2 linked regions of the Homo sapiens genome follow. Changing the gene in region 2 together with the main gene of any one other region gives a genetic interaction. Each region holds a gene or a part of one and is shown on either strand. Other genes may lie near its edges.

Region 1 (15,913 bases), on a different chromosome or scaffold from region 2:
ATTGAAGCCCAAAGATGAGTTAAATTCAGTGCTGTATTGAAACCAGTCAGTGCAAAAAAAAAAAAAAAGTTTTACCTTTGTAAATTTTTCATTGTTAACATCAGTTGGTAGTTGTTAAAACATGCACCAAATTCTTTATAATGTTCTGTGTGGTTCTCAATGTGATATTCTTGACATTGCTGTCCTTACTGCTTGGTTCTTGGTTTTAAATTAAAAAGTAGATGTAGCTCATCATTTTTACTTCCAAAACGGTGGAGCTAAAAACGGCTAATTGATCTTGAGATAAGAATACCCTTTACTAAGGCAAAGATTTAATTGAAATCCAAAATGATTTATAGAAACGAAAGGCATTTTCCATTTGTTGTCTTCTGCCGAAATTCTGAATTGCATACACACATGAAGGATAATGAATGGTTTCAACGGTGCTATATTAGGTTCTCTGATTTTCATGACCTATGTATGTTTGGAAATACAATATTGTATAAAATGTGGATCGTTTTGTTACCGATTTAATATTGCCATTTTAATTTGGTGTAACAATTGGTTACACTTGTTTTTCAAAGCTATCCTTTGAGGAGAAAGTCAAAATGTGTTGTTAGCCTACCTCCACTCAGGCCTCTTGCTGTGTAATCATTATTCCAGGTTATGATGTGCATAGCTTTTAAAACTGCGTGTACTATTATTCTGCTCTTTCCCATACTCTTGTCATGTATTCAGAACCTAAACTTATAGCAAAAGAGCCAAGCAGTAGCAGTTTTTGTAAATGTAAAAATAATTAGATCCAGACTTTGTTTCCTTCAATTTTAAAAATAAAAAATACCTCAGTGCTATGTTTTTCAGTTATCACCTGCATTTCTCAAAAAATAACACCTGCTTCATGTGGCACATAACTTGTAAGAATCACATTTTGGATTTTAAAGAAAGACTATTAAATATTTTAAGATCACTATCAATGACATTTCCCTTTCTTTTATTCAACAATGGAGCCTATTGCAGTAGCGATTTTTACCTTATAGCTTAGGTCTGACTTACCAAAAATTCTCAGAGGAATTATGTCCTGCTACAAGATTGTGGTGCCTCAGAATGCGATGCTGTTCTTATTCGCATATGAAGCTAGTAATGGGACCAAGCTACCTGAACTGAGGTTACACGATGATGGTGCCAGCTACTCCCTACGAGGAATTGTCTTTTCTGTTGTTATTAGAAAAAACGGTTGGGTGCGGTGGCTCACGCCTGTAATCCTAGCACTTTGGGAGGCTGAGGTGGGTGGATCACCTAAGGTCATGAGTTCAAGACCAGCCTGGCCAACATGGTAAAACCCTGTCTCTACTGAAAATACAAAAAAATTAGCCAGGCGTGGTGGCGGGCACCTATAATCCCTGCAACTTGGGAGGCTGAGGCAGGAGAACTGCTTGAACTCAGGAGGCAGAGGTTGCAGTGAGCCGAGATTGCGCCACTGCATTCCAGCCCAGGTGACAGAGTGAGATAGATTGTCTCCAAACAAACAAAACGTATTAGTAGGCCAAGCATGGTGGCTCACGCCTGTAATCCCAGCGCTTTGGGAGGCTGAGGTGGGCGGATCATAAGGTCAGGAGTTCGAGACCAGCCTGGCCAGCATGGCGAAACTCCATCATCTCTACTAAAAATACAAAAAATTAGCCAGGCGTGGTAGTGCACGCCTGTAATCCCAGCTACTCGGGAGGCTGAGGCAGGAGAACTGCTTGAACCCGGGCGGTGGAGGTTGCAGTGAGCCAAGATCACACCACTGCACTCCAGCCTGGGCGACAGAGTGAGACTCTCTCAAAAAAAAAAAAAAAAATACTAGTGAGAATTCCTCACTCTTTCTTTATAACAAACAAACAATCTAAGGCAATATAGACTGTCTAACCACAGAGTTTATCTTAATCCACAGACATTGTTTTCTACCCTTTGATACTTCCTATAGCAGAAAACTACAAATATGACCTTTTTTACCAACATGTGCTACTTCTAACTTGGCATTTAAGCTGAAAACTCCTCTTAAGATCTCCACAGTAGTAGCTATCATCTTCCTCACAGAGTTACCATGTAGGACAATTGCTGCATCCTACAGTGCTGGATGATTAACTGGGTTCTTTCACAATCTCTTCAAATTGCAGACTACATTGTGGACCTTTGTAGTAGCTCATAAACCTGAATTGCTCTGGGTCTCCTATTATACCTCACACAAATAACATGGATGTTTCTGTAGAATTGTCCTTCAATTTAGTGAGGCTATTAATGGGAATGTTACTGCATATGATTCTAGAATATAAAAGGCTGAGAGAAAGCAGCTGTTATGCTACTTGGGTGAAGTAGTAGTCAAATCAAAATATACTCAAACGAGGGTGACGACTGAAGTTGCCATGAAAAAATGAGGTAGTCTTAGCATAATGAATGACATTAGGCTCTGGAATTAAACCGCCTGGTGTGACTCTACCATGTAACCTTGGGTGAGTTAGTTTTTTTCTTTTTTAACCTTATATTAGTACCTACTACCTCACAGAACTGTAAGGGTGACAATGCTTTCGAACAATGCCTGGCTCCTGTTTAGCTACTTTAGGCATATCTCAAATATTTAATATGTTAGTGTTTTTACATCAGCTTTAGAAATTGGCCTATCAATACTGATAATTTTATATGACACACAAGGAAAAACAAGCACTGGTCATACCACTTTTATTTATATTGTTATCTATGTTACATTGTTTATTCAATATAGAAAAAATATGAATACATTCATAGTATTCTCTTTTAATTTGGTAATTCCACATTGTCAAATATTGACTGTTTTTATATTGGGTGTCCTACCCAATTAAAAAAAAAAGAGGAAGAATGACCTGGCAGACAGTTCTTGTTGTGCCATGTTATTGATATAACAGCAATATCATATATGTCTCTTTTTTTAAACACCTAGTTTTGAAAAGACCAATGATTAAACTACTGTTTACTGGCTCAGGGAAATGTTTTAAGAAATAGAAATTAATTCATTCTTTCCCCAAGAAAAACTTTAAGGTAAACATCTTAAAACACCTAAGTGATGAAGGAGAAAATTTGTATTCCTTAAAAAGGGGTCAGTGCTGAAAGAAAATTGCATGGTAGACCCCACTGCACAACGGTTCTGCACCAAAAGAAAAATGAGGACCATATTAACATAATTATGTTGGAGAGAAGAAAAACCCACACTTAGAAGTCAGGTTTCTTTTAAAACTCCTTGTTACAAATAGAATCAATGATTATATCTCAGACATAATAATGGGTCAAACTCACAAAATCAGTGCTACAAAATACAGTATTTTTCCATCACTTTTAGTTGTAATGTACACTATGTACAGAAAGATAATACTACCTATTTTAAACTAAATATAGATGAACAAACAGCTTGTTAAAAACCAGAATCAGGGCTTATAAATAGTGCAGAAAATGCAAACGCCAAAAAAACGATGCCTCCTATGATTGTCACTGGAAGAGAGAGAAAAAAAGTCAAATACAGTAAAATTCCTATACCTTGATACTGTACAAAATGAAAAGGGAGCCGATGAGGCGGCCAATTATTCTTCCAATCTATTAAACTAACCTTGAAAACAAATTAGAATCACTTCAACCCCTTTTACATAACAAGGAACAATACTTAACATGCTTGACTGTGAACACTAAGAATCAGGTTTTCTCCAGCACTGTTTTGAGAAATGACAGGATTGTATTAAATCCAGACAGTGCTGGCAAGCAACAGTAGAACTATAACTCATCTTAAAATCCAGTTATAAAAGAAAATGTTCAGGTCTTCTGACTAGCAAAGAGACGATTCTTCCATCTCTAGACCTAACTGTGGCTTCACAGGACATATTCAGCAGAATCAGTACATATGGTCTCCACATGATTCCAGTCTTGTAAGACACATTTTTAGAGCCAAAAACTTCTCATACTTCCAAATGACAATTGTTTTACTAAGATAATATGTTAACAAGAAGCTACTATGAATTCGATAAAAATGACTTTGTATTTTGCTAACTTCTACACAGGTGAAAAAAGTCCGTATTTGCAATACCAGGATTAATACCTCTATAAGAGATGGTAGGTAATTAGAAAAACCAAGTATACTTCAGCAGCAGAAATTTAAATAATCAAAGCTAACACCCTTTAATCTCTCAGTGATTCTAAAATGTTATCTGATTTGTAATTTTCAAGACTTACCAGTTCTGACAGAGATTTTCTGTGCTATCATTCTTCCTCCAATTACTGCCAATCCCGTGCACAGGCAGTGCCCCACAGTTCCACCCACGGCTACACCATAGGGGTCCTGGAAGCAAGCGTCACAGCATTAATTCAAAACCAAGGTGACAACTGCTGCTTGAGAACCATAACAATTCAGAAGCACTAAAAATGGTGGCCAACAATTAAAAAGCATAATAGTTATAAAAATGCAGGTGTATAATAAATTTATGAGAGGTGTAATGGCTGCTTGAAGGAATATGTACCAGTTATACTTAAGACTAGACCTAAAAGTTGAAATAACCCAAATCAATTTGTAAAGTCAAACAAATCCTGATGAAATAAAGCTAATCGAACCTTTCAGCAGTTATTAAACTTCCTTCACAGGCAATACGTAGCACTGCTATGACAAGTGCTAGGGAGGATTTTAAGCTAGACATCTGTTCCCTCAGATACTGCTTGGTATTAGGAGAAACTCAGTCAATCCTTCACAGAATAGTATGCCTCTGCTTCCTGGGAACAGAAACCCTGCCTCAGTGCCAGGAATCAAGGATTTATCCAGTGAACACATGTTACCTGAGCAAAGCAGACACTCAGATTAGGGGGAGAGGGGTATGTAGTAAAAGTTTCCCAGAAGATAGTCCTGAAGAATGAACAGGGCATAGTGAGAATGTGATTTTGTTTTGTGGGAGAAGGAACATGCTAAATAGAAAGCAAAGGCCAGCAGTACCAGACAACCAGCTGCAGAGCCCTTCAGCATTTCACAAAAGGAGGTCATGAGGGTAGGTGGGAGTCCAGGTGAGGGAGGACCCTATCATCTTGGAGTTTAAACTGTGTCCTCAGACACTTGTTGGTTTTTAGCTGGAAAGTAACAGAACAGATTAATGCTTCAGAAATCCGCTAGGCCAGGTGCAGTGGCTCATGCCTGTAATCCCAACACTTTGGGAGGCTGAAGCAAGAGGATTGCTTGAGCCTGGCAGTTTGAGACTAGCCTAGGCAACACAGTGAGACCTTGTCTCTACAAAAAAATTAAAAATTAGCCAGGCATCCTAGCAAGCACAAGTGGTCCCAGCTACTCGGGAGGCTGAGGTGGGAGGATCATTTGAGCCCAGGAGGTCGTGGCTGCAGTGAGCTATGATTGTTCTCCATCCTGGGCAACAGAGCAAGACCCTATCTCAAAAATTTTTTAAAGTCTAGTGGAGAGAAAGAACCAGAGGGGAACAAGACTGAAGGAAGGGTGATCCACTGCGATGCTATGGCAACAGCCCTGGGAAGAAACTGCGTTGCCCCAGATCGGGGCAGATGACTGTAGGCAAAGAGCAGGTGAATTTGAGAGAAATTAAGAAGGCAAAATTAACATACCTCCATGATAAATGAATGATAGGCTTTATGGAAAAATATCAGAGCCAAGCAGAGTGGAGCCAGCCACTCAGGAGGCTAAGGCAGAAGGATCACTTGAGGCCAGGAGTTCAAGGCTAGCCTGAGCAGTACAGCGAGATCCCGTCTCTTAAAAATAAAATAATGGTGCAGTGGTTCATGCATGTAGTTCCAGCTATTCAGGAGGCTGAGGTGAGAGGATCACTTGAGCCTGAGTTTGAAGCTACAGTGAGTTATGATCACACTACTATGCTACAAATTCCATCCTGGGTGACAAAGCAAGACTCCATCTCTTATTAAAAAAAGAAAAATAGGCTGGGTGCAGTGGCTCACGCCTGTAATGCCAGCACTTTGGGAGGCCGAGGAGGGTGGATCACGAGGTCAGGAGACTGAAACATGGTGAAATGCTGTCTCTACTAAAAATACAAAAAATTAGCCGGGTGTGGTGGCAGGCACCTGTAGTCCCAACTACTGGGCAGGCTGAGGCAGGAGAATTGGCTTGAATCCAGGAGGCTGAGGTTGCAGTGAGCTGAGATCGTGCCACTGCACTCCACCCTGGGTGACAGAGTGAGACTCCATCTCAAAAAAAAAATAAATAAATAAAGCATGACACCCAAGTTTCTCTCCCACAATTGATGAACTATGTATGGTAAGACCAATGTGATTTTTAAAGTTAAGAGTCAGTTGAATCAGGGTGGGTGGATGGTTCACACATGTAATCTCACCACTTTGGGAGGCCGAGGCAGGCAGATCACCTGAGGTTGGGAGTTTGAGACCAACCTGGACAACATGGTGAAACCCCATCTTTACTAAAAATACAAAAACTAGCCAGACTTGGTGGCACATGTCTCTAATCCTAGCTACTCGGGAGGCTGAGGCAGAAGAATCGCTTGGACCCAGGAAGCAGAGGTTGCAGCAAGCCAAGATTGTGCCACTGTACTCCAGCCTGGGTGACAGAGCAAGACTCTCAAAAAAAAGAGTCAATAAACCTGTTACAGAGAAAGCAGAAAGAGAAGAATGTTGATAGCATAATCATGAGGGACAAAGGCAGCATTCAAGGAAGGACAGAGAAAGAAGGGTCCACAGGAGAAAGCAAGTGAGGTGGCCAGCCAATCACCTCCTGTAAGGACCAACGGAGGCATCATGCAAGGCCACAGGGAGCTCAAAGCACAACAACATTCCTGGTGAGGCCAGAAACTGGGTTCCCATGGGCTAAGTATGCAAGGAGAACAGAGCCAAGGCTTATTCCCATCACAGCCAAGTCCTCTGACACTGCAGGAGGGCAAGAGTTGGATTTGCGATGTACAATTGAGAAAAGGGGCTTTTTTTTTTTCTTTTTAAAGGATGAGAAAAAATTGGTACACACGAACAATGCTCACAAAACGGCTGGGAGAAAGGCAAAATCTAAGCATATTATAAGGGTGGGATTCAGAATACAGGAGGGCAGAGGGGGCTGCCACTGTGATGGGTGGGAATGAAGAAAGGGAACTGCTACTGCTCTGAAGGAGAAGGGAAAGCCCGCTGTCGGGCAGTGTGTGTGCAGAGACAGGAAACTGGCTGAAGCATCCACTGTGAAGAATGGAAGACTGGGACTACATTTCCCAAATTCTACTTGTGTATTATAAACTGCTACCCATGAAGATGGTTCTATTTGAAAGTAATATTTAGGCCGGGCGTAATCTCAGCACTTTGGGAGGCCAAGGTGGTCAGATTGCATGAACTCAGGAGTTCGAGACCAGCCTCTGCAACATGGCAAAACCCTGTCTCTACAAAAAATACAAAATTAGCCAGGCATGGTGGTGGGAACCTGTAGTCCCAGACTCAGAAGGCTGAGGTGGGAGGATGGCTTGAGCCCAGGAGGTGGAGGTTGAGGTGAGCTGAGATTGTGCCACTGCACTCCAGCCTGGTTGACAGAGCCAGACCCTGTCTCAAAAAAAAAAAAAAAAAAAAAGAAAGAAAGAAAATATTTAAAAATTCACTAGATTAAGTAAAATAAACTAGTATTTAACTAGTTCCTTTAATATAGGACTTTCCAGTCTTTATTTGTATACTGAGTCGTCTTTTTTTTTTTTTTTTTTTTTTGAGATGGAATCTAGCTCTGTCGACCAGAGTGGAGTGCAGTGGCGCGATCTCGGCTCACCCGGGTTCAAGAGATTCTCCTGTCTCAGCCTCCCGAGTAGCTGGGACTACAGGCGTGGGCCACCATGCCTGGATAATTTTTGTATTTTTCACCATGTTGGCCAGGCTGGTCTCGAGCTCCTGACCTCAGGTGATTTGCCTGCCTCAGCCTCCCAAAGTGCTGGGATTAAACGCGTGAGCCACCACACCTGGCCCAAGTCTTAAAAAGAAAAAACAAAACGACAGGGATATATTATTTGCCAAATTTGACTCTGAATTTCTTCCTTCCCCCTCACCCTTTTTTGGCCTAGAACCAATTCAAGTCTCAAAGGACACTAGGATTATGTGAAATCCAATTTGGGAACATTAAATCATGTTGGAAGCAAAGATAAAACTGCATACTAAAATGGCCTGAACTAGACAACTGCATGGTTCATAAGAAAAATTACCAACAAAAATAGGAATACTAAGGGAACAGGAAAAGACACAACATTTCTGCCATTTAAGAGCTCATTAAATATCCCCGCAGGGCAGTTAGTATGGAAGTGTGGCTAACACTGAATGTGCCATGTGGGGGACCATGCTAGATACCCTGCGTGTGTTATTTCATCTGCAAACCGATCCACAAAGCAGGTAATCCCCATTTTTGGATGAGAAAATGCAGGGAAGTGCAGTAATGTGATTTTACAGCAAGAGACTCAAAACCCAGTCAGCACGTGCCATACTGCTAGAATGGACCAGGGTGTCTCGTAGGTAGGGAGCCTCAAGCCTTTCACACGTCACTCTATGGCATAGAGTCTATGCCACAGAGTAGAGAGAAAAACGCAGTGATTCTGCTGTCATGATAACTCACCCTGGTAGAATCACTACCACCTCAACAAAATGGTTACTTACTATTGAGTCCCAACTCTGGCAATCTGAGAGCCAATAAAAGGCTAGAAATCAAGAAGAATATAGGGTACAGCCATTAAATAAATAAATAAAATAAATAAATAAATAAATATATATGTATATATATATATATTTTTTTTTCTTAAGATAGTGTCTCACTCTGTCACCTAGGCTGGAGAGCAGTGGCACCATCTCGGCTCACTGCAACCTCTGCCTCCCGGTTTCAAGTGATTCTCCTGCCTCAGCCTCTCTAGCAGCTAGGATTACAGGCACCCGCTACCACGCCCAGCTAATTAAAGTGATATTTTTAAAGAAAGTTTGTTTTATGAGAATCAAATGAAAATCAGAGTTCCATTTTTTTTCCCCAAAATACAGCATTTTTGAGGCTTCCCTGACAAAATAGCCTTTCCCATCTATCTTAGTCCTGGCCTTCAACTGTCTTGTATTTTAAACCACAGCCTATAATTAAAGAACTTGTTCTTTTATGATAGTTCCAAGGAATTAGAAACAATTTTACTCTTATAAAAAGAGAATCTGATATAAACACAGATAAGAAATAGTATCAGTTAAGATGAAAAAGAGGTTGAAAAGTGGCAGCAGTATTCCATTCCACAACCGTCTCCACATGAAATCTTAATAAATCTGTGTGAACAATGACAGGCGCCTCATATAAAACCTTGCTATTCCCATCAAAAGAAAAATTAAAAAATAAAAAACCAATGGGCATGTTTTAAATAAGTGGCATTGAACAACTGTGAAGAAGGCCACAGCCAGCCAGCTTACTCCCTCACACAAGTCACCCGATCTCTCTGGGGGTCAGGTTCTTCATCTGAAGAGTAAAAGCTACAAGATGAGCTGAGGTCTCTAGCTTCCCACTCCAGAACTTAGGATTCTTGGGCTAAGACTTTTTGAACAAAAAGTTCCTACACAGAAACAAACAAGTCACCTAGGCCAGAGCAGTGACTCTCGCCTATAATCCCAGAAGGATTATTTGCGAGGCTGAGGCAGGAAGTTTCAGGCCAGGGGTTCAAAACTGGCTGGACAACATGGTGAGACCCCACCCCTACCAAAAAGTAAATAAATAAATTACCCATAATAGCAGTACGCAACGATAGATAAGCACTGAAATAAAAATAATGTTTTTATTTCCTTAAGTCTTTTTTGTTCTTTTTATATATTATTTATTTAATTTTTTGAGATAGCATCTCACTCTGCTGCCCAGGCTGGAGTGCAGTGGTGCAATCTAGGCTCACTGCAACCTCTGCCTCCCCGGTTCAATCAATTCTCCTGCCTCAGTCTCCTGAGTAGCTAAGATTACAGGCATGAGCCACCTTGCCCGGCTAATTTTTGTATTTTTAGTAGTAGGGGTTTCTCCATGCTGGTCAGGCTGGTCTCAAACTCCTGACCTCAGGTGATCCGCCCACCTTGGCCTCCTAAAGTGCTGGGATTACAGGCGTGAGGGACGGCACCCGGCCTTCTTTTTATATTTTAAAAGTAAACCTCCTTTTAAAATTTTTCCATGTCACTGAAATGATGTTGAAGAGTGAATATTCTAAGAGCTACACAGAGATTTGTAAACAGCTGAACCAATTTTCTGCTGGATTATTAGGCTGTTTCTAAATTTTTACTAAGTTACAATAATTATAAGTAGTCTGTGCAACAGTCAATTTCTTTAGTGTAACACATGAACGAAAAGCTATACACTTTTTTTTTTTTTTCAGACTGGGTCTCCCTGTCACCAAGGCTGGAGTGCAGTGGCGCGAACACAGCTCACTGGAGCCTCAACCTCCCAGGCTCAAGCAATCCTCCCACCTCAACCCTCCTGAGTAGCTGGGACTACAGGTGCATACCACCAAGCCCGGCTAGCTACACATTTTTAAGGCTTTAGGTATTAAACACCAAAATGGCCTTCAATAATATTATACTGATTTATATTCTCAACAACTATAAAAAAGAAAGTTCTATGATAAGAAAACCAAGCTAAGATGACAAGTACCACGGCATCATTTTGGCAAAACCAAAGGGAAAAGGATGAGTAAAAAGAGCCCAACTGAGCTTGGTTACAAGAATTTCACCTGCAGGTAGCAGGAACTGGGAGAAGGCCAATTTTAGAGAGCAGCTGAATTATCAGATGTAAAACAGTCTTGCATATGAAGGAATGCTGTGGCCCACTTCAGTGTGTCCAGTGTTTTCTGGAACAAAGTAATAATAATTACGTTTCATTTTAAACAGTCTCCTCTCAAATATCACTCACCTCTCTAGCTGCCAATACAATTGTAGTTAGTTGAGAGCGATCACCCCATTCTGCTAAGAATGTTAATGTAAGAGCTTGAACAAAAATGGGTGAAATAAAATGCAACCACTTTTTCTGAGGTACTGTTATGCTTGTACCCGTTTCAACATCTCCCGGTCCATTTAAAAGTTTGGTTCGTTGAAACTAAAATAAATAATAAACAAATGAAAGTAAGCACAGGAAGCAAATCAAAATAGCACACAAATCACTTGACTTTTCTAAGTGTTTAAATTCTATGAAATATGCTCCAAAAAAACTACATTTATGTGACCCCCAAACCTCCCCTCTGAACCACTGGTCTCACACAGCAACAAATGCTATAGTCTCAATTCTTCCGTTTCTCCTCAGCTGAACAAACCAAACAGTATTTACTGCTCTGCTCACTTACTATCCTAGACACCACGGGAGAAACAGGTAAAATTATAAAATACAGTTCCTGCTTTTCAGGAGCTTATAATCAACCTAATTAAGGAAACTGATTACCTGTGTTCAGTATTCATCTGTCAGCTTCCTTTCTCTACTACATTCACACCAACCCCAAGTCAGATCACAGACAGGTATAAGAACAGAACAAAGCAAAAGAAGCTATTTTTGTGTAGCCCCGCATATCACACAGATGGGGCCACTGAGAAACCTCTGTAGAGTGTTTATTCCTAGTTGAGTGCCTTTTTGGTCCAGATCAACAGTGCCATGGCTTACTTCTTCATCTTTCTTCTTTAATTCAGCTTGAACTTCTTCCAGTTCCTCTTGACCCTCATCAGGGCTCATCTTTAAGCCTTCCCGAAGCATTCTAATGCCAAAAATGGCAAATAATACAGTTGAAACATAGTATGTATAGACCCTGGGGATGACTGTGGTGGCATAGCCAAACAAAACTGGAAAAAATACAACAGTATGTTTGTTAATCGAGTGTGTATCACGACCAAGGGAACAGTTAACTTCGGAAATAATAATTTATCACTGTTAAAAGAAAAATGGTTCACATTAGAAGCTAATCTAGTATGTAATAACCTCAAGTATTTCCAGATCTTTCTCTCCACCAATAATAAACCATTAGGTCTAGCCCAGGCCTAACACAGCTTACTCAGAAGCCAATGGTCCAGTTGAAGATGGCACATCTTCCTGAGAGATGTTAAGTAAGATATTGAACTCCTTTCCAGGCATGTTCAGTCAGAGGCTGGCTTGCCTTATGTTGTGCAAGGCACAGTACCTGGGGTAGAAGTTAGCTCTGAGGCCCTCTCAAGAGCTGAGATTTTATAACTGGGAAGCCATGCCACTTGCATAGTGGAATTTCTTCATCACAAATCTTTAAATCACAAACTTCTAGTGAAGAATCATGACAAAAGTCTCACATAGCAAGATTTAAACTCTGCTCCCTTGTAACTATTTAAAATAAGTACGTTTTATGAAAAAAATCTAAAAATTTCTTATTATATTAAAATAATGTTACAACAGGCTCAAACATTCAGTTCCACTCTTTCCCACTGATAAGGAAAGACATCTGTGTAAGTTATATAAAAAATGATGCTTGGAACTATATCAAGAACTCAAATCCTAATGGTGAAACACAAGTATATCAGTAATACTCATTCAGTAATTAAAACTTAAAAATTTGGCTGGGCAAAGTGGCATAATCCCAGCACTCTGGGAGGCCACGGTGGAAGGATTGCTTGAGCCTAGAAGTTCAAAACCAGCCTGGGAAACATAGTGACACCCTGTCTCATAAACAAACAAAAACAACTATGTAAGGAACAGAGGACACGACCATACATATAATAAATACAATTACTCTGGCCAGGCACGGTGGCTCATGCCTGTAATCCCAGCACTTTGGGAGACCGAGTCGGGCGGATTACTTGAGCCCAGGAGCTTGAGACCACTGGTCAACATGGCGAAATCCTGTCTCTACAAAAAAAATACAAAAATTAGCCTGACGGGGTGACACACGCCTTGGTCCCAGCCTACTTGAGGGGCTGAGATAGGAGGATCACTTGAGCCCAGGAGGTCAAAGCTGCAGTGAGCTGCGATCATGCCACTGCATCCCAGCTTGGGCAACAGAGTGAGATCCCATCTCAGAAAAAAAAAAAGAAAGAAAGAAAAATACAATTACTCTTTAATTCACCAGCTCTTTTTATAAAACGGGTGCAACACTTACAAATCTGCCTGTAAATGTATAACCTGTATGTAAATAATTCCCTACATTACAAAACTGAAAAGATCTTAAAATCATGGTTAGAAATGCAGCAAACCTATGTTTGTGTGCACATCTGTATTTAAATTATTGTGTGTGTATATATGTATGGATGTATATTTGTATATATGTATGTGTACACACAGGATACAAGCATATATTTTCTAGCTCTGTCCACTGAAAAAGACAAGAGGCAAAGACATCTCAGTAACAAGGAGCTCAGTAACCTTGCACCTAGATCTTGGGTTCTAATACCATTCTCCCCTAAAAAGCTCCTCAAAGCTCCGCCGAGAAATGGCCAGTTCCAGGACTGGGCAGAGCAGGTGCATGATGAACCTGTAATATCTTGTTGTACTAGAAAGTGAGGAGCAAAATCAAATGGGAGCATGCCACAAAGACACAGGACACAGTTTGGAGAGGCTCTCACTGGCCTAACATCGGATAATTTAAGCAGCAAAATAGTTAAATAATTAATTATAAACCATTGAAAAAAGGAATCCATAAGTTTGTACTGCTAGTAAAAAGACAAACAAATGGGAAAGGAAGGAGAGCTCTTGCTGGCAGTAGAATACCAAGGCTCACTGGTGAATATGCAAGAAGTATTAGAATTAAAAGCATCATTTTGCAAGCATCAATGAAAGATCTAATTATGCAAGAATCATCAATTGATGCAAAATCTTTGGAGAAATTTTGATGAGGAAGAGGGTATTTGTACTGTCTTTAAGTATATCCCTACAGATTAGATAGTAGTTGCAAGGGAAGACAACACAGAAAAGAAATATTGACTGGGTCACCAAAATTAATGTCACCAATGAGGAATAAATGGACACCATGTGCTTCCAGATGAGACATTCTTGGAGAGACAAAGTATCACCTATGCAGTTTTCTAGTCAGGAATGCCTACCTCAATCTAACCATCAGGAAACATCAGACAAACAAAAAATGGGGAACAGCCCATTCCTGGGGTGGAGGGAGGAGGGATACACTGTAATTCTCCCAAAAAGGTTGATGTCAGAAAACATTTTAAAAAAAGGCTATGGATATATTTCAGATTAAAAGACTAAAAAGATAATAAATAACTAAATGCAATATCTGACCTAGACCGAAGGGAAAAACACTGATATAAAGGACATTATTGAGGGGTCAGGGGCAAGGGGAGGGAGAGCATTAGGACCAATACCTAGTGCATGCAGGGCTTAAAACCTAGATGACGGGTTGATGAGTGCAACAAATCACCATGGCACATGTATACCTGTGTAACAAACCTGCACGTTCTGCACATGTATCCCAGAACATAAAGTATAAAAAAAAAGTGGTTAAATCTATAAAACTAAATAAAGCTATAAAAGAGAAGATGTAGAAATAAACACATATGATTTAACAGTTGAGGCAAAATAATATAAAGACTGTTAAACCCACTTAAATTACATAAAACTGATAACACAAGTGAAATATTTAAAAATTTCATGTCCTTTTTTTTTTTTTTGAGACGGAGTCTCACTCTGTCGCCCAGGCTGGAGTGCAGTGGCACAATCTCGGCTCACTACAAGCTCTGCCTCCCGGGTTGACGCCATTCTCCTGCCTCAGTCTCCCAAGTAGCTAGGACTACAGATGCCCGCCACCAAGCCTGGCTAGTTTTTTGGATTTTTTTAGTAGAGACGGGGTTTCACCGTGTTAGCCAGGATGGCCTCGATCTCCTGACCTCGTGATCCGCCTGCCTCAGCCTCCCAAAGTGCTGGGATCACAGGCGTGAGCCACCGCGCCCAGCCTATGTCCTTTCAAAAAACAAGAAAGGACATTAGGTCATCCAAAATTAAAATATGGATGACAGATTCAAGTACTGTATCAATACATAATATATATTAAATGTTGTGATTATATGTGTGCATTATATAGCTTATAAATAATGTATGTATATGTACACACTATAGACAGGTATGTAAACAACGTGTATATATACACATTTACAATTTTATTTAGATAAGAGTACAAATGCTAAAACAAATGGGATAAAATGTTAACAACAGGTGAATCTAGGCAAAAGTTATATAAGTGTTCTTCATACTATTTTATTTTTGCTGCTTTGTAAACTTAAAATTATTTCTATAAAATGTTTAAAAATTGTAAAATGATGGGCCAGGGGCCAGGCGTGGTAGCTCACGCCTGTAATCGCAGCACTTTGGGAGGCCAAGGCGGGCGATCATTTGAGGTCAGGAGTTTGAGACCAGCCTGGCCAACATGGTAAAACTCTATCTCTACCAAAACATACAATAAGTATCCAGGCGTGATGGCATGTGCCTGTAGTCTCAGCTACTTGGGAGGCTGAGGCAGGAAAATCGCCTGAGCCTGGGAGATGGAGGTTTAAGTGAGTCGGGATCATGCCACTGCACTCCGGCCTGGGTGACAGAGCAAGAGTCTGTCTCAAAATAAATAAAAAGATAAATAAATAAAAATTTAAAAAATAAATACAAGGTAAAAGGATGGGCAGGCACACATACCTATAATATCAGTACACTGGGAGGCTAAGGTGGAAAGATAGCTTGAGCCCAGGAGTTCAAGATCAGCCTGGGCAACACAACCAGACCCTGTCTCTACAAAAAACAAAAAATTTAGCTGGGCATGGTGGCATGAGCCTATGGTCCCAGCTACTCAGGAGGCTGAGGTGGAAGGATCACTTGAGCCCAGGAGTTCCAGGTCTCAGTGAGCTATGATCATGCCACTGCACTCCAGCCTGAGTGATAGAGCAAGACTCAGTCTCTAAAAAAAAATAAATAAATAAATAAATAAAAAATAGCCCTATCATCTCATTAAGA
Region 2 (15,913 bases):
TGTTATCCAGGCTGGTCCCAAACTCCTGGACCCAAGTGACCCACCAACCTCGGACTCCCAAAGTGCTGGGATTACAGGTATGAGCCACTGTGCCCCGCCTATCCTTTACTCTTTTCTTTTTTCTTTTTGAGACAAGGTCTCACTCTGTCATCCAGGCTGGAGTGCAATGGTGTGATCTCAGCTCACTGCAACCTCCGCCTCCTGGGTCCAAGGGATTCTTGTGCCTCAGCCTCCCGAGTAGCTGGGATTACAGGCGCACACCACCACGCCCAGCTAATTTCTTTGTTATTTTTTTGGTAGAGACGGAGTGTTTCACCATGTTGGTCAGGCTGGTCTCGAACTCCTGACCTCAGGTGATCTGCCCATGTTGGCCTCCCACAGTGCTAGGATTACAGGCGTGAGACACCGCACCCAGCCTCAACTCTTTTTTTTTTTTTTTGGAGACAAGAGTCTTGTTCTGTTGCCCAGGCTGGAGTCCAGTGGCACGATCTCAGCTCATTACAACCTCCACCTCCCGGGTTCAAGCAATTCTCCTGCCTCAGCCTCTGGAGTACCTGGGACTACAGACGTGCGCCACCATGCCCAGCTAATTTTTTTTTGTATTTTAGTAGAGACAGAGTTTCACCACATTGGCCAGGATGATCTTGATCTCCTGACCTCGTGATCCACCTGCCTTAACCTCCCAAAGTGCTGTGATTACAGCCATGAACCACCGTGCCCAGCCAAAACTGTACTTGTCTCCTTCAAGCTGGAATCGAACCAGCAACCTAAGGACGTCTCCTACTGAGGAAGTAGCTATAGTCCTCTGCTCTACCAGCTGAACTATTGAAGGGACCTTAACTCTTGATATCAGAATTCAGTCTTATTTTTAAGATTTAAGAAAAATGGGGAAAAAAAGGAAAGGATTACTGTACAAAAATAGCATATGGCCTGCTCTGTAATTAATACCCTGTGACATCCCTCCTTTAGTCACTGCAATGGCAACAGGAACAAGTTGGTATGCCTGCGTTTGCCTACCTTAAAATGTTAACCAAGGTTCTGTGCAGATTTAGGTATTCTGCTGTGTGAACTCATTAAAGCGGCACAAAAGCAGCAAGTGCACCCTGCTCACCAAAGGTAATGTAGCCAATGTTGTCACCCACAGCGGCGTCTGTGTCTTTCAGCTCCAGAGGAGGTTCCCTGTGGCTAAAGAGGACCTGTGGGGCTGTGTGGCTGGCTCTGCGTCCTTCTTTGAACTCCTGCCAAGACAAAGCAAAAGCAACCAGAAGAGAAGTGGGTGTAAGATGAGTGGCAACTCAAGCTATAGGGTTTGTTCTATGTGGTGTGACCTTTGTAGCCCTCCAGACCAGCAGGAGGTTAAAAATAAACTACACCAAACCTGAAATATGACAAGTGCTAGCTGCTACCACTACACTTCAGATTCAAACGGGAGAGACTGCAAAGTACTTAATAAGTCAGATCTTCAAAATGTGATGAAAAGTAGTGATAATCCTTTTCCTTTGCACTAACATAGGTGATAAACTACCATACTTTCTCTGGGCTCTGGGACTTTGCATGAGTCTTTTTTCACTGAGGATCCTGTTGCTATTTAGAATTCATCAATAAAATCTTTAGAGCAAACTTAAGCTCTTCTTGCGGACAGAAGACAATGGAATGAAAGAAGCTGAGTTGTCTTGGTGCTCATAAAGGAAGCCCTTCCTTCTATGTTCCAATCTCCAAACCTGAAGCTTCTACAGTCCATACATTCCTATGTAAATAGACAAGTAATACAAGGCTTCTCTCTCTCAGCCAGATCTGCAAGAACAGAAGTAGATTTTCTAGCAATGCCAGTAAAACTGGATAATCCAAATTCATCAAGTGGGCCTTCCAAGATGATAGACAGCAGGAGGATGCTGCCAAGGACTCTCCAAGGTCTCTTGTTTTAGGAGTTCTGAAGGCATGGTTACACAGCCATGTGGCCTGCGTGCCCTTCTACTGCTGCTCAAATACTGCCTCCTAATACCATCTCCAACAAACCCAGGCAGGTACTGCTCTCTTGCTGGAGCTGCCATGTCTTTTCTACAAACCTCTACTATGATATTTTACCATTCATTAATGTATCTGGCTCCCCTACCAGGTTATGAGTTCAAATCAAAGATCCTGCTTAATTTATCTTTGTAATTTATTCTTCTGTCTTTCAAAGAGGCTATGCAGCACATGCCTTGCTGAGAGAAAGCAAGTGCTTCTACCCTAGCTGGTTTAGTATCATCACACTGTACAGGAATAGGCAAGGGCTGTTTCCAGTTGCAGGCAGGAAGAATAAACACTGATTAGCAAGCCCTCTCGACAATTAGTGGCAAAAGAAAGATGATGGCTGAGGAGCCCCAATGCCCAGCCTGGGACCTCACCTATTTCACAAACTGCCTCTCATGCTAACACTACCAAGCTTTAAGTAGGAAAAGAAATGACCATCAACTGGGTTAGATTAGTCCCCTTTTGAACAGATTTTGTTCCCCGAAGGAAAAATATCCAAAAAGGAAGGGAAGGAGTCAAGATTATCCCAAATGGAAATTTCTAGAGCAAAGCTTCTAAAATCGCCCTTCTCTAGAAAACATTTTTTATTCTACAAAGGGGTTAAGAAGCTTTTTAACTTTTACTGGTTTTACTTTTCGGTATTAAGGAATTAAACAGAACAGATACGTAACTGTTGGCATTTTCTTGTGTCTGTTAAGTGTCTCCAAGGCTCTAATTCACAGGTACATGTGGTATTCACAATGAGATGGGGTATTTATAAACCAGTGGTGACTTATTAGCACTCATTAGTTTTGTATATGGAAAATAACATATTTAAGGCTCGGTCAACGATACGTTTCTGGCTTGGGCCTATTCTTTCTTTCTTTTTTGAGACAGGGTCTCACTCTGTCACCCAGGCTGGAGTGCAGTGGCGTGATCTTGGCTCACTGCAACCTCCACCTCCTAGGTTCAAGTGATTTTCATGTGTCAGCCTCACGAGTAGCTGAGATTACAGGCGTGTGCCATCATTCCCGGCTAATTTTTGGCCTTTAAAGTAGAAACAGGGTTTCACCATGTTGGCCAGGCTGGTCTCAAACTGGCCTCTAGTGATCCACCTGCCTAGGCCCCGCAAAGTGCTGGGATTACAGGCGTGAGCCACTGTGCCTGACTGGGACTATTCTTTAGATTCTCTGATGTCTTTGCTTCTCCTCAGTTCTCTCTCCTAAATAAAGCTTAAACAAACAAACACACCCAAACAGCCCTCCATCTTCATTGGCATCTTTGTTATACGTAATCAAGCAATATTGCCTTTTTACTCTCCTTCTGGCTAGGATGTCTTTTGAGCATCAGATTATTTCTCTCTTCCAAAGTACTATTTATCATAGGAAGTTCGGAATAAATCCAAATATATACAAGGCATTTAGCATATGATAAAAGTAGCATCTTAAATCAGGGGTGTAAAAAAGGAAATAATTGCCACTGGGACCACTGGATAGCCATTTAGGAAAAAAAGATCATTCTTTCATACCATACAACAAGAGGAGCTCTCAACAAATAAGAAAAAATCATGTATAAAATATGTAACTGTAAAAATACTCAGAAAATAACAGGTAAATTTCTTTATAACCTTCGAGTAGGGAAGGGCTTTCTACCTATAACTCAAAATCTAGAAGCCATAAAAGGCAAGACTGATTAATTTGATTATGTAAAAACAAACTTCCACATGGTGGAAAAAACCCCACAAAACACGGTCCAATGACAAACTGGAGAAAATATTTCAACTCTTAATCACAGATGAAAGGCTACTCTCCCTAGTATGTAAAGAAATTGAGAAGCTCAATGACCCTACAGAATAATGGGTAAAGGACATAAAGAGACACTTCATAAGAAAATCAAATGGTCTATAACATTAAGAAAAGATGTTCTGACCTCAGAACATCTTTTTATGTCATCATAAGCAGACACAGATACCACCTTTAACCTATCAGATCAGGAGAAATCCACAAGTTTACAACATACTCTGGGAAAACAGGCACTCCTCTCCATCACTGGTAGATGATAAAATGCCACTACCCTGATGGAGAAGAGTTTGGCAATGTCTACCAAAATTACTGACTTGGACTCAGTGTTCCCAGTTCAGGAAAATATCCTACAGACATACCCACACATGCAAACAGGCAGAAAGGGCCCTCAAAATACATCTTTACAACTGCCTAAGAGGCAGGTGCTTGTGTCTTTGTCCCTGAACATATAAAAACCAGTGGTTTCCACTTAACTTTTCCTGGTTATTTAGTTACTAACTTGACTTTAAAATCTTAGAATATGAAAAGAATTCTAGTTCACCATAAGCTAATCTCCAAAAGCATAATTACTGGTCCTATTGCTTTTCATGGAATAAGCATTGAAATGATGGCTTCTATCAGACATTCTCCAGTACTCAGCTGATATGCCCATACCACTAGTGTGGAGGAATACACTTCCTGTCTTTTTCTGAGAGGTAGAAAGCATCCCTCAGAGCCTGCTTGCCAAATGACAAAAGCAAGACTTGAATTCTGATCAGGCTGGATGTGCATGCTGGAAGGGAAAGGCCACAAAGGCTGGCAACAAGTAGACTAGTGACCATGAGGAACTTCAAATAGTGTTCTCAGGGTACAACTTTCTGTGCCAGGTGTCCCTCATTCTTTTTCCGAGAAATTTACAATTCCAGGCCTAGGAAAAAGTTCTATTTATTTTTTGGGAAAATCCAGCAAAAGTCCAGTTTCCGATTGTCATTTCCAACAAATTACCTAAGCCTCTGAATTTGGAAAGGGTGGCAGGGCAGATGACTTCCTGAGTCTAGCTAGCACTGCACCAGGCCAGTTACTATCCAGAGATCCTGTTAGTGCCAAAATGCAAAAGAGGCTTTGTCTTTCCTTTTAGGTAAGTGCCCTACCACAGGTACCCTGAAGGAGGCATTTAAATCATATGCCAAAAAAGAATACACAAAATTCTCCTAAGGAACAAATCTCCGGTACACTCTCCAAGATAAGATCTGTTTAAAGTATAAAAATAAGTTGTTTCCTGGAATAAAATGGAATAAGATTGGTAAAAAACCAGCCAAATCTAAATATATACTTCAGAGCTTTTAAAATTAGTTTTGTTACTCTGGATTTAGCCCAATTTCTGAGCTACTGCATTTAATTCCCCTGTCAATTCTGCATAAAAACACATGAAATGCCTCTCTAGAGGCTTACTTTTAGGACCCAAGAGATACATGTATATTTATATATTCCTTCATCAAGTTCAGCACTAGCAAATGCTGAAGTGTCAATATTCCAATTTTTCTGTATAGTGACTCCCAAACTAGTTTCTGATTAATTAGCCAAAATACAAAAGCCACTAGGGATGGAGCAGTTGAGAATATCACTTTTGAAGATTTTCCTAGCCACTTAGAAGGCTATGCAAAGTATCTTTACTGTTAAGCACAGCTGTCTTTCAACTCTATTTGGCAAAAGAGATTCTGCTTCAGAATTTAAAAATCTTTACCACCCTGCCAAGGAACAGAATGAAGGTAGTAACGTTTTCAAAAAATTTTACCATTGTACTAGATTTTGAATGCTGAGCCATCTCAGAAGAAACCAGCCTGAATGTCACTTGACCAATGAACTCTCATGTCCATCCTAGAGGCAGCAACTAACTGGCCAGCAGACTGGTACACAATGACCTGAATGCAACTACACCAAAAATCCAATTACAAAATGCCCTGCTAACTCTCAGGACTCTCTTTTTTTTTGAGTCGGAGTTTCGCTCTTTTTGCCCAGGCTGGAGTGCAATGGTGCAATCTTGGCTCACTGCAACCTCTGCCTCCCAGGTTCAAGAGATTCTCCTGCCTCAGCCTCCCAAGTGGCTGGGATTACAGGTGCCTGCCACCACACCCGGCTAATTTTTTGTATTTTTTTAGTAGAGACGGGGTTTCACCATGTTGGCCAGGATGGTCTTGACCTCTTGACCTCGTGATCCGCCCACCTCGGCCTCCCACAGTGCTGGGATTACAGGCGTCAGCCACCGCGCCTGGCCTCTCATGACTCTTCTTAAGATGAGCTTCTTGTGAGGGAAGTACTCTATGGTGACCCATCCAAACTCAGGCTCAGTCTGTCAGTTCAACAACTCTACCTGTTCATGCGTTATCTACTACCAAATAATTGGCTATACAGTCCATTCTGAAAAGACCTTAGGACCAAACCAAGAGCAGCCACCTTACTAGAAATCTGAGGAAACACAAGAGGTTAGGGTTAGGAAACCTGACAAAGTTTTAGGTCAAAGACCCCACAGTAGGAAGGATGCATAACATTCATTCATAGTTAGTATGTTTAATTCTCAACTTACCCTTTAGTTCTGTCCTGCAAAACTAAACCACTGAGAAAAAAAATATCAGGCTGGGCGCGGTGGCTCATGCCTGCAATCCCAGCACTTTGGGAGGCTGAGGCGGGCGGATCATGAGGTCAGGAGATTGAGACCATCCTGGCCAACACGGTGAAACCCCATCTCTACTAAAAGTACAAAAATTAGCTGGGCGTGGTGGCGCGTGCCTGTAATCCCAGCTACTTGGGAGGCTGAGGCAGGAAAATTGCTTGAACCCAGGAAGCGGAGGTTGCAGTGAGCTGAGTTCGTGCCACTACACTCCAGCCTGGCGACAGAGCAAGACTCCACCTCAAAACAACAGCAGCAGCAACAAAAAATATTCACTGAGTTTTGTGGGAGTTGTCTATTAAATCTTCAACAAATTCTAACGTCAAGGCTGGGCATGGTGGCTCATGCCTGTAATACCAGCACTTTGGGAGGCCGAGATGGGCATCACCTGAGGTCGGCAGTTTGAGACCAGCCTGACCAACATGGAGAAACCCCGTCTCTACTAAAAATACAAAATTAGCTGGGTGTGGTGGTGCATGCCTACAATCCCAGCTACTCAGGAGGTTGAGGCAGGAGAATTGCTTGAACCTGGGAGGCGGAGGTTGCAGTGAGCCGAGATCACTCCATTGCACTCCAGCCTGGGCAACAAGAGAGAAACTCCGTCTCGAAAAAAAAAAAAAAAATTCTAACATCAGTAGAGTTGCTAGATCTCTTTCCTACGCTCATGGTATGTTTGGGTGCAAAGGTATAAGTCGCCATGCATGGGTTTCCCCCAAGATGTCTGCTCCATACCTGCATGAACACCTTTCCAATGACCACATCGTCGTCATCCTTAAACACTGTGCTGAAGACTACTGTGACTCTGTCCTTTTTAGACTCAACATACCTGAGAGGAACAAAATCCATGAGGATAAGTACAGAATCAGAATGGGGTTTTGTCAATAACTTGATCTACAAGTACATCAGAAGGCTAAAGTCATAAATCTCTTAAATCATAATATAAAGGTGTGCCAAATGAGATGATATTTATGGTCAACAAAGTCAGTGCACAAAATGAATGCCCTAAGAGAGGCAGCAGATGGAAATTATCAGAAGTAGATTTTATTGACTTGTAAATATAACATGGACCTATGGTCACCCTGCCTGCTGATTATCCAGGCTATACTCTTAAACATGACTCAGAACAGTGGTGCCTTAAAGGAAAGCACTGGATTCTCTTTCCACCATCTGTCAGCTCTCAGTATCTGGAGAGTAGGAGGAGTGGCTGATTTCTGCCCTATCATCTACTTCCTGGCTTAAGACATTTTATGAGAAAAACATTTTCACGCAATACAGCTGAAAGTTTGACCAAGCCATATTTCTTTCAGTAAGTGCCATGGTGGTGTAGCAGCCATATCCAGGCTTCAGGACCAAATTCTATACTCACATGGTCTCATCATCCCTATAATGGATAACTGCCCTGTTCTCTCCTTCCTTGCCCTCTTCTTGGAATTGGAAGTATTTTTCAAAGACAGAGGCAAAACAATTTCGCTTCAACATGCCAGCTTGATGCACAATGGAATCCTTGGATGCCGGAAGATTTTCAAGGTCATATAGCAAAGAGACATTGTATCCTGGAGGGAAAGAAAAAACAAGAAACAAAAAACAACCCAGCAGTTACATTTAAAAAAAAAAAAAAAAAAAAAAGCAGCATACTATCTATACCAAGTAAACAGAGACTAGAGGCAACTAAAAAAATCTTTTTTCAGGTTCTATTGACATTTTGTCTCATTATCTGTACTTTTAACCTGGGTAGAATATAGTCTATTTCCATCTATCTCACAGGGCAAAATGAGGTGAAATAAAATCTTAATTTTTATAAGATTCTTGTAAATATATATAATTAATGTTAATCAAAAATTTGAATCAGTATCAAAGATGACTAATTACAAATATGTAATGGGAGAAAGTCAGAACCTGGGAACTCTGATTGGAAATGTACCCTTCTAGACACAGTTGTAAAGGAGCCACATATATTTCTCTGATAGTTTAATGTGCCAAGTATCAGTATGGCCAGCAAATGGGTAGCTTTGTGATAATAAGATAAACCCTTCTACGTGCCACTGCAAACTCTTTATGAGGTGGCAGGGTAGAAAAACCAACTACCTGTTCATACATATACCTCCCCAATAGCTTTTATTGGTATATATTGTACAATTTTTAAAACATTTTACTTCATTTGATCTCCATAACCACCTTTGAAGTCTGCAGGCTAGATAAGGTTACTGTTTTGCAGAGGGAAAAGGAGATTCAAAGAAGTGACGTGACTTGCCAAATGCAGCATGACACATAAGTGTAGGGCACTCTATTTTGAGTCGAACAGAACTGGGTCCAAATCCTAGTCTTGTCATTTTGTGACCTTAAAAAAACTGCTGGGTGTGGTGGCTCACACCTGTAATCCCAGCATTTTGGGAGGCCAAGGTGGGCAGATCACCTGAGGTCAGGAGTTTTGAGAGCAGTCTGGCCAACATGGCAAAACCCTGTCTCTACTAAAATCACAAATATTAGCCAGGCATGGTGGCGGGCGCCTGTAATCCTAGCTACTTGGGAGGCTGAGGCAGGAGAATTGCTTGAACCCAGGAGGTGGAGGTTACAGCGAGCTGATATTGCACCACTGCACAACAGAGCGAGACTCCAGCTCCAAAAAAAAAAAACAAAAACAAAAAAAATTGCCTGACTTGTTAATTTCCTCATCTGTTAAAAAAAAAAAAAAATTGGTGGTGGGGGGCAGGTAGGGTGGTCTGGGCACAGTGGCTCAAGCCTGTATTCCCAGCACTTTGGGAGGCCAAGGTGGGTGGATCACCTGAGGTCAGGAGTTCGAGACCTGCCTGGCCAATATGGCAAAACCCCGTCTCTAATAAAAATACAAAATTAGCTGGGTGTGGTGGTACACGCCTGTGGTCCCAGGTACTCCGGAGGCTGAGGCAGGAGAATTGCTTGAACCCGGGAGGTGGAGGTTGTAATGAGCTGAGATCGCGCCACGGCACTCCAGCCTGAGCAACAAGAGTGAAATTCTGTCTCAAAAAAAAAGAAAAAAAGAAAAAGGAGCAGGGCAGGGGGTGCGGAGATAGGGGAGAATGTTGTGAGCATTAAAAGAATGTTCAATACTTAAAGTGTGTGGAACATGACAGGTCATCAATACGGGTGCAGAACATGGACTGAAACCATTGGATGACCTGCCTTTTTACAGCATGTCCACTATGAATTCCCAGAAGCCGGCTGGAACACTTGATTATAGAATCAAATGATTAATAAGTGTCAAACTGCCTAGAGATGTTTTTGCAAGAATATTTCTACATCACTGAGGATCATTTTATATTCTAGGCAACTGACGGGAATAACTTCACCAGAACTGTATGGCTTTCACACTTCTAAGTATCTGAAACCTCATTACTATTTCATTTTTTCCCAAAAGCATTCCTGAGATCTGTATTTTTTTTTTTTTGAGATGGAGTTTTACTCTTATTGCCCAGGCTGGAGTGCAATGGCATGATCTCGGCTCACCACAACATCCGCCTCCCAGGTTCAAGCGATTCTCCTGCCTCAGCCTCCTAGGCAGCTGGGATTACAGGCATGCGCCACCAGGCCTGGCTAATTTTGTACTTTTAGTAGAGACGGGGTTTCTCCATGTTGGTCATGCTGGTCTTGAACTCCTGAATGCAGGTGATCCGCCCGCCCTGGCCTCCGATAGTGCTGGGATTACAGGCATAAGCCACCGCGCCCGGCTGAGGTCTGTGTTTTTTGTTGAGCATGGGCTCTTCGGGAGGATGGGCTAAATCTTTGCTCTAGATAATGCTTAGCACATTTTATTTAATACTGGAGAGGCACTCCAGTATTAAATAATATCAATCATCATTCTATTTTGGGTACTTGAAAACCAAATAAGCACACAGATTACAAGGTTAGATTAAAAAAGAAAAGATTTAGAGCTGAGGTTTGCTAGTTTTAGGAAGCCAAATAAGAGCAAATAAAACTATAGCTAAGGTAAAGTCTGTCTTTAAGTAAGGCTTCTAACATGATGAACAGAATATACTGAGGATGAAGAGAAGTAAAAATCTAGTATAACTTGCTGAGTTTTCCAAACGTGCCTAGATAAACCCATTAAAAAAGAGGAGGAGAGACTCTACGGTCTTTTTTTTTTTTTTCTCGAGACTGAATCTTGCTCTGTCGCCTAGGCTAGAGGGCAGTGGCGCAATCTCAGCTCACTGCAACCTCTGCCTCCTGGGTTCAAGCGATTCTCGTGCTTCAGCCACCTGAGTACCTGGTATTACAGGTGGCTGCCACCATGCCTGGCTAATTTCTGTATTTTTTATAGAGACAGGTATCTCATTATGCTGCCCAGGCTGGTCCTGAACTTCTGAGCTCAAGCAATTCACTCACCTTGGCCTCCCCAAAGTGCTGGGATTACAGGTGTGAGCCACTGCACCTGGTTGAGACACTACTTTCACACACTTTTACATTTCACACTTCTATGAAGACAGGGTCTGCAATCTGGCAATGTCTATGATTTAGTGGGAGGTAGAAGGAGGCCCAGGGACAGAAACATAAACTTTCCATGTCAGGATGTTGGCTGTGACAAGCATGCCCAAGACTTTGGACATGATTTTTCTGTTCTAGATCTGTTTGTTTCTTTCTTTTAATACCTTGATTTTGCCAAAAGCCTACAGTGTTATCTTGGCTTTTATTTCTGTGACACATTCATCCCGCCAATTTGGAGATTAAAAAAAAAAAAGGTGCTGGGTATGGTGGCTCATGCCTGTGATCCCAACTCTCTGGGAGGCGGAGGCTGAGGTGGGTAGATTGCTCAAGGCTAGGAGTTTGAGACCTCCTTACTCTGTTTTGGCAGTATGGGCAGCAGACAGTGAGACTCTGTTTCTACAAAATATTAAAAAAATTAATTGGGTATGGTGGCATGTGCCTGTAGTTCCCAGCTACCGGAGAGGCTAAAGCGGGAGGATTGCTTGAGCCCAAGATTTGGAGGAGGCTGCAGTGAGCTATGACTGTACCACTGCATTCCAGCCTGGGCAACAGAATGAGACTGTCTGAAAAAATAGGTGAGGTGATGAAATAAGCTAGCACAAGTAACTGCTGTTAAGAGTGACAGAGAACTTCCTTCTTAGAAGACTTTTCTAATCAAGGTACCAAAGTTGTAATAGTTGAGTAAAAAATATTATGTTCCAATGGTCTTACTACCTGGTTCTCACTTTGGGGTCCTGCTAAATGCCTCAGAATTTGAGACATGCCACTGAATCACAGGGTAAAAAGGCTGTTCAGTTTTTCCACTTTAAACCTCCTTTTTAAAGCAGTATAACATAGCTGTTCTATTCAAGGATGACACGGTGCCTTTCAATTCCTCTGGCCATGAATGTTGAGACAACCTATTAGAAGACTGGATTAAGAAAGGGTCTGATTTTTATTACTTGAAATCACAAGAATAGTGTGGTGAATATTCCTCTTCTTTCTCCAAATATGTAGTATGCAGAATTACTAAGGGCCGAGGGTGGGAATCAATGTTTGCTCATTCTTTTCAAAGCCATTTTAATCACCATGAACAAACAAATGTGGCCCTCTGGCTGAAAGATTAAGTAAGAGTCATGTGGCCCCATCAAGTAAATGTTAAAAATGTCACACATCAATTTTGTACCTCTACTGTGTTCCATATTGGACAAAGCAAAGCCCCTTAAAAGCTATTTTTATGGACGGAGTTGAAATTAGGAATGGGCTCATGCAGAAATATTTGTAATAATATTTAAACGAAATCCTTTGGGTAAAAAAAGCATAATATAAAAAGGACACCTCTCTTCCCATGTCATTCCATAGTTGCTCACATGACTACATACCTGATTCTGGATTTACCAAGAAACTCCCGTACACCCTCTTTAATAACTAGAAAATAAAAACAAAACAAAACCAAATACGTTAATCCAAAGGCCATGATAATTTCATTATTTTTAAAGTACTGCACTTGCCAAGCTCTTCCTAAGTTGGCATTCTTCCTAACTTTCATTTGGTGGATGGGAAAGTAGAGACAGAGGGGAAGTGGATTTAGTCACCAAACAAGTCACAAAACTGAGATGAGTATCTTTTTATGCCTGGGACAGAGTGCAATGGCGCGATCTCGGCTCACCACAACCTCCGCCTCCTGGGTTCAAGTGATTCTCCTGCCTGAGCCTCCCAAGTAGCTGGGATTATAGGCATGCGCCACCATGCCCGGCTAATTTTTTTTTGTATTTTTAGTTGAGATGGGGTTTCTCCATGTTGGTCAGGCTGATCTTGAACTACTGACCTTGGATGATCCACCCGCCTCGTCCTCCCAAAGTGCTGGGATTATAGGCATGAGCCACTATGCCTGGCCGAGAATCTTTAATCAAAGCTCATCCTTTTTTAGGACTTGACTACACCCTTAATATGTTCTCTGTTCTCCTCCAGATCCTACATTGTACTTAATCATGTTTTGTTTTCAAGAGAGCAAAAGGATGCCAAATTCCAAGTGAGAGAACAGATTGTTAGTTATCAACCTAAGTACAGACTGAGCCACTAACCCAGGTGAATAAAGAGAAAAAACCAGGACTCTCGGGAACTGATCTGTTTGTCTGCTGATCTTGTATGCTTTAAAATTACTCAGTGCATAGCCAGCTCTTAAGGCAAAGGACAGTCAATAATGAAATCTTAGCTAGCTATTAATACTGGTGTCCAGAAGGTTGTATACTCTCCATGTCTTTCCCCCCAAACCAGAACCTACTGCTGGCTACTTTCCAGGTTTTTGAATTAAATGAAAACAACAACAAAAAAAACCCAAAAAACCAAGAACCCCTTTTATACCTTCTGCTATGGTTTGAATGTCCTTTCGAAAACTCATGTTAAAAATTATGATTTTTTTTTTTTGAGACGGAGTCTTACTCTGTTGTCCAGGCTGGAATGCAGTGGTGCAATCTCAGCTCACTGCAACCTCCATCTCCTGGGTTCAAGCGATTCTCCTGCCTCAGCCTCCTGAGTAGCTAGGACTACAGGCATGCACCACCATGCCTGGCTAATTTTTCCACACCCAGCCAAAATTTACGATTATTATTATTGTTTTGGAAGCAGGGTCTTACTCTGTAGTCCAGGCTACAGTGCATTGATACAATAGCTCACTGCAGCCTTGAACTTCTAGGCTCAAGTGATCCTTCTACCTTGGCCTCCCAAAGTACTGGGATTACAGGAGTGAGCCACCATGCCTGGCCACATGTTGAAATTTAATTGCCACTGTGACGGTAATAGGTGATTAGGCCATGAGGGCTCTGCCCTCATGAATGGATTCATGTTGTTATAGGGGAAGTTGGTTTGTTATTCACAAGAGGGGCTGTTAAAAAAGTGAGTCTGGGCTAGGTATGGTGGCTCATGCCTGTAATCCCAGCACTTTGGGAGGCCGAGGCGGGGTGATCACGAGGTCAGGAGATTGAGACCATCCTGGCTAACACAGTGAAACCCCATGTCTACTAAAAATACAAAAACAAAAAAATTAGCTGGGCATGGTGGCAGGCGCCTGTAGTACCAGCTACTTGGGAGGCTGAGGCGGGAGAATGGCGTGAACCCGGGAGGCAGAGCTTGCAGTGAGGTGAGATCGCGCCACTGCACTCCAGCCTGGGTGCACTCCAGCCCGGGTGACAGAGCAAGACTCCGTCTCAAAAAAAAAAAAAAAAAAAAAAAAATTGAGTCTGGCCCTCTCTTGCCCTTCTGCCTTTTGCTACAGGATGACGGGAAAGGGCACGAAGGCCCTTGCCAGATGCTGGTGCCACGCTCTTGGACTTCCCAGTCCCCAGAACATGAGTCAAATAACATATTTTCTTCATAAATTATTCAGTCTGTGGTATTCTGTTATAGCAACAAAAAACAGACTGAGACTCCCTATTTTTTTCTCTGTCACCGTGACTGCTTCACCTGGTGGAAACTGCTTCCAGAATGACATGGCTTAAGAAACAAACATTTTATTTTAATTTAATTAATTCTTTTTTTTTGAGACGGAGTCTCACTCTGTCACCCAGGCTGGAGTGCAGTGGCGTGATCTCGGCTCATTGCAACCTCCACCTCCTGGGTTCAAGCAATTCTCCTGCCTCAGCCTCCCTAGTAGCTGGGATTACAGGTGTCCACCACCACACCAAGCTAATTTTTATATTTTTTAGTAGAGATGGGGTTTCACCATGTTGCCCAGGCTGGGCTCGAAATCCTGACCTCAAGCAATCCACCTGTCTTGGCCTCCCAAAGTGCTGGGATTACAGGCGTGAGCCACTGCGCCTGGCCTACTTATTTATTTATATACAAAGACAGGGTCTCACTACGTTGCCCAGGCTGGGCTTGAACTCTTGACCTCAAGCGATGCTCCTGCCTTGGCCTCCAAAAGTGCTGGGATTACAGGAATGAGCCCCCACGCCTGGCTGAACAATAATTTCCTAATATTCCACATATTTATTTAACCATTTTCCTATAGCTGGAAGAAATTTTCAACCTGCAAGACTACATTTTCTTACACAAGGGCAAAAGATAAATAATGCCACCTGTAGTTCCTATTTGGTGATTGCACAGCCACTGTGAGGTATTTCTTTTACCGAAGAGGAATTGAGAGGAGGGGCTCAAGGTCACGAGAGTTTCTTGGTGGCACAGAGAGACTTGACCTTCAGGTGTCTGATATACCACTTCTTTAAAAAAAAGTAACATGCATATCCCAAGAATTTGAAACAGCATGCGACCTCTGAGCTACAAGTCTGTGTTGCACGTACTATTGGTATTTCGAGGAAGGGGAAATCAGATGTGGTGGGGATTTAGTTTAAATCCCTAAGTCCCTAAGATTTAGTTTAATTTCAAGCTTACTAAGTTAATATTCTGAGATCTAAGAGGTACTGAGAGCCAAATTTATATCATGTTCAACTGCTTTGCTCCCTCCCCTTGGTAAAACCAGCCAACACTTCCTTGTCACTTCACTTGCACTTTTAACCATGATTCACTTTTCAGTTTGTACCCCCTCTCCCAATGACACCAGGAGATGGGTGGAGGCAACCTATCACTCATCACCATTACCTTCCCACTCTAGCAGCAGAGGCATTCCACCTTTAAAAATGGCCTGTGACAAAGTAATAACCTTCCTGTGGTTATCATGGGTTGGTCACTGTTTAACCAACCCAGGGAGCCATTTACTGTGCACTCTGCTCCAACACTATGAATGTTACTTACTCCACCCACTTGAGTGGGTGGGGCTGGTTCTTTGACCCTTGTGGTAGCTACAAGAATAGCAATGTGTTCTGGAGCTCCATCGTAAGAAAAGCACAGAATGGAAAGGAGATTTAAGAAATCTAGCTTAACTCTTTCTTTCCAGGATTATTATTATTGCATTTAGATCTTTTCCTTTTTTTGAGGTGGAATCTCACTATGTCGTCCAGGCTGGACTTGAACTCCTGGGCTCCAGCAACTCTCCCCACTTGAACCCCTCAAGCCAACTGTGTGAAGTCCCAACACACAG

What was found.
Region 1: changes in ARPC2 (region 2) and TMEM165 are lethal when combined (synthetic lethality), as found in Homo sapiens cells (one study listed by BioGRID).

Annotation. Positions count from the first base shown.
Region 1 is NC_000004.12:55,412,943-55,428,855, reverse strand, and holds the end of TMEM165 (putative divalent cation/proton antiporter TMEM165 precursor), read right to left. Parts: intron 11,785-15,913; coding exon 11,609-11,784; intron 11,054-11,608; coding exon 10,871-11,053; intron 4,319-10,870; coding exon 4,213-4,318; intron 3,481-4,212; coding exon 3,404-3,480; 3' UTR 2,681-3,403; downstream 1-2,680. UniProt on the Homo sapiens protein: Putative divalent cation:proton antiporter that exchanges calcium or manganese ions for protons across the Golgi membrane.
Region 2 is NC_000002.12:218,230,745-218,246,657, reverse strand, and holds part of ARPC2 (actin-related protein 2/3 complex subunit 2), read right to left. Parts: intron 12,307-15,913; coding exon 12,261-12,306; intron 7,995-12,260; coding exon 7,808-7,994; intron 7,268-7,807; coding exon 7,174-7,267; intron 1,239-7,173; coding exon 1,112-1,238; intron 833-1,111; exon of another isoform or gene 740-832; intron 1-739. UniProt on the Homo sapiens protein: Actin-binding component of the Arp2/3 complex, a multiprotein complex that mediates actin polymerization upon stimulation by nucleation-promoting factor (NPF).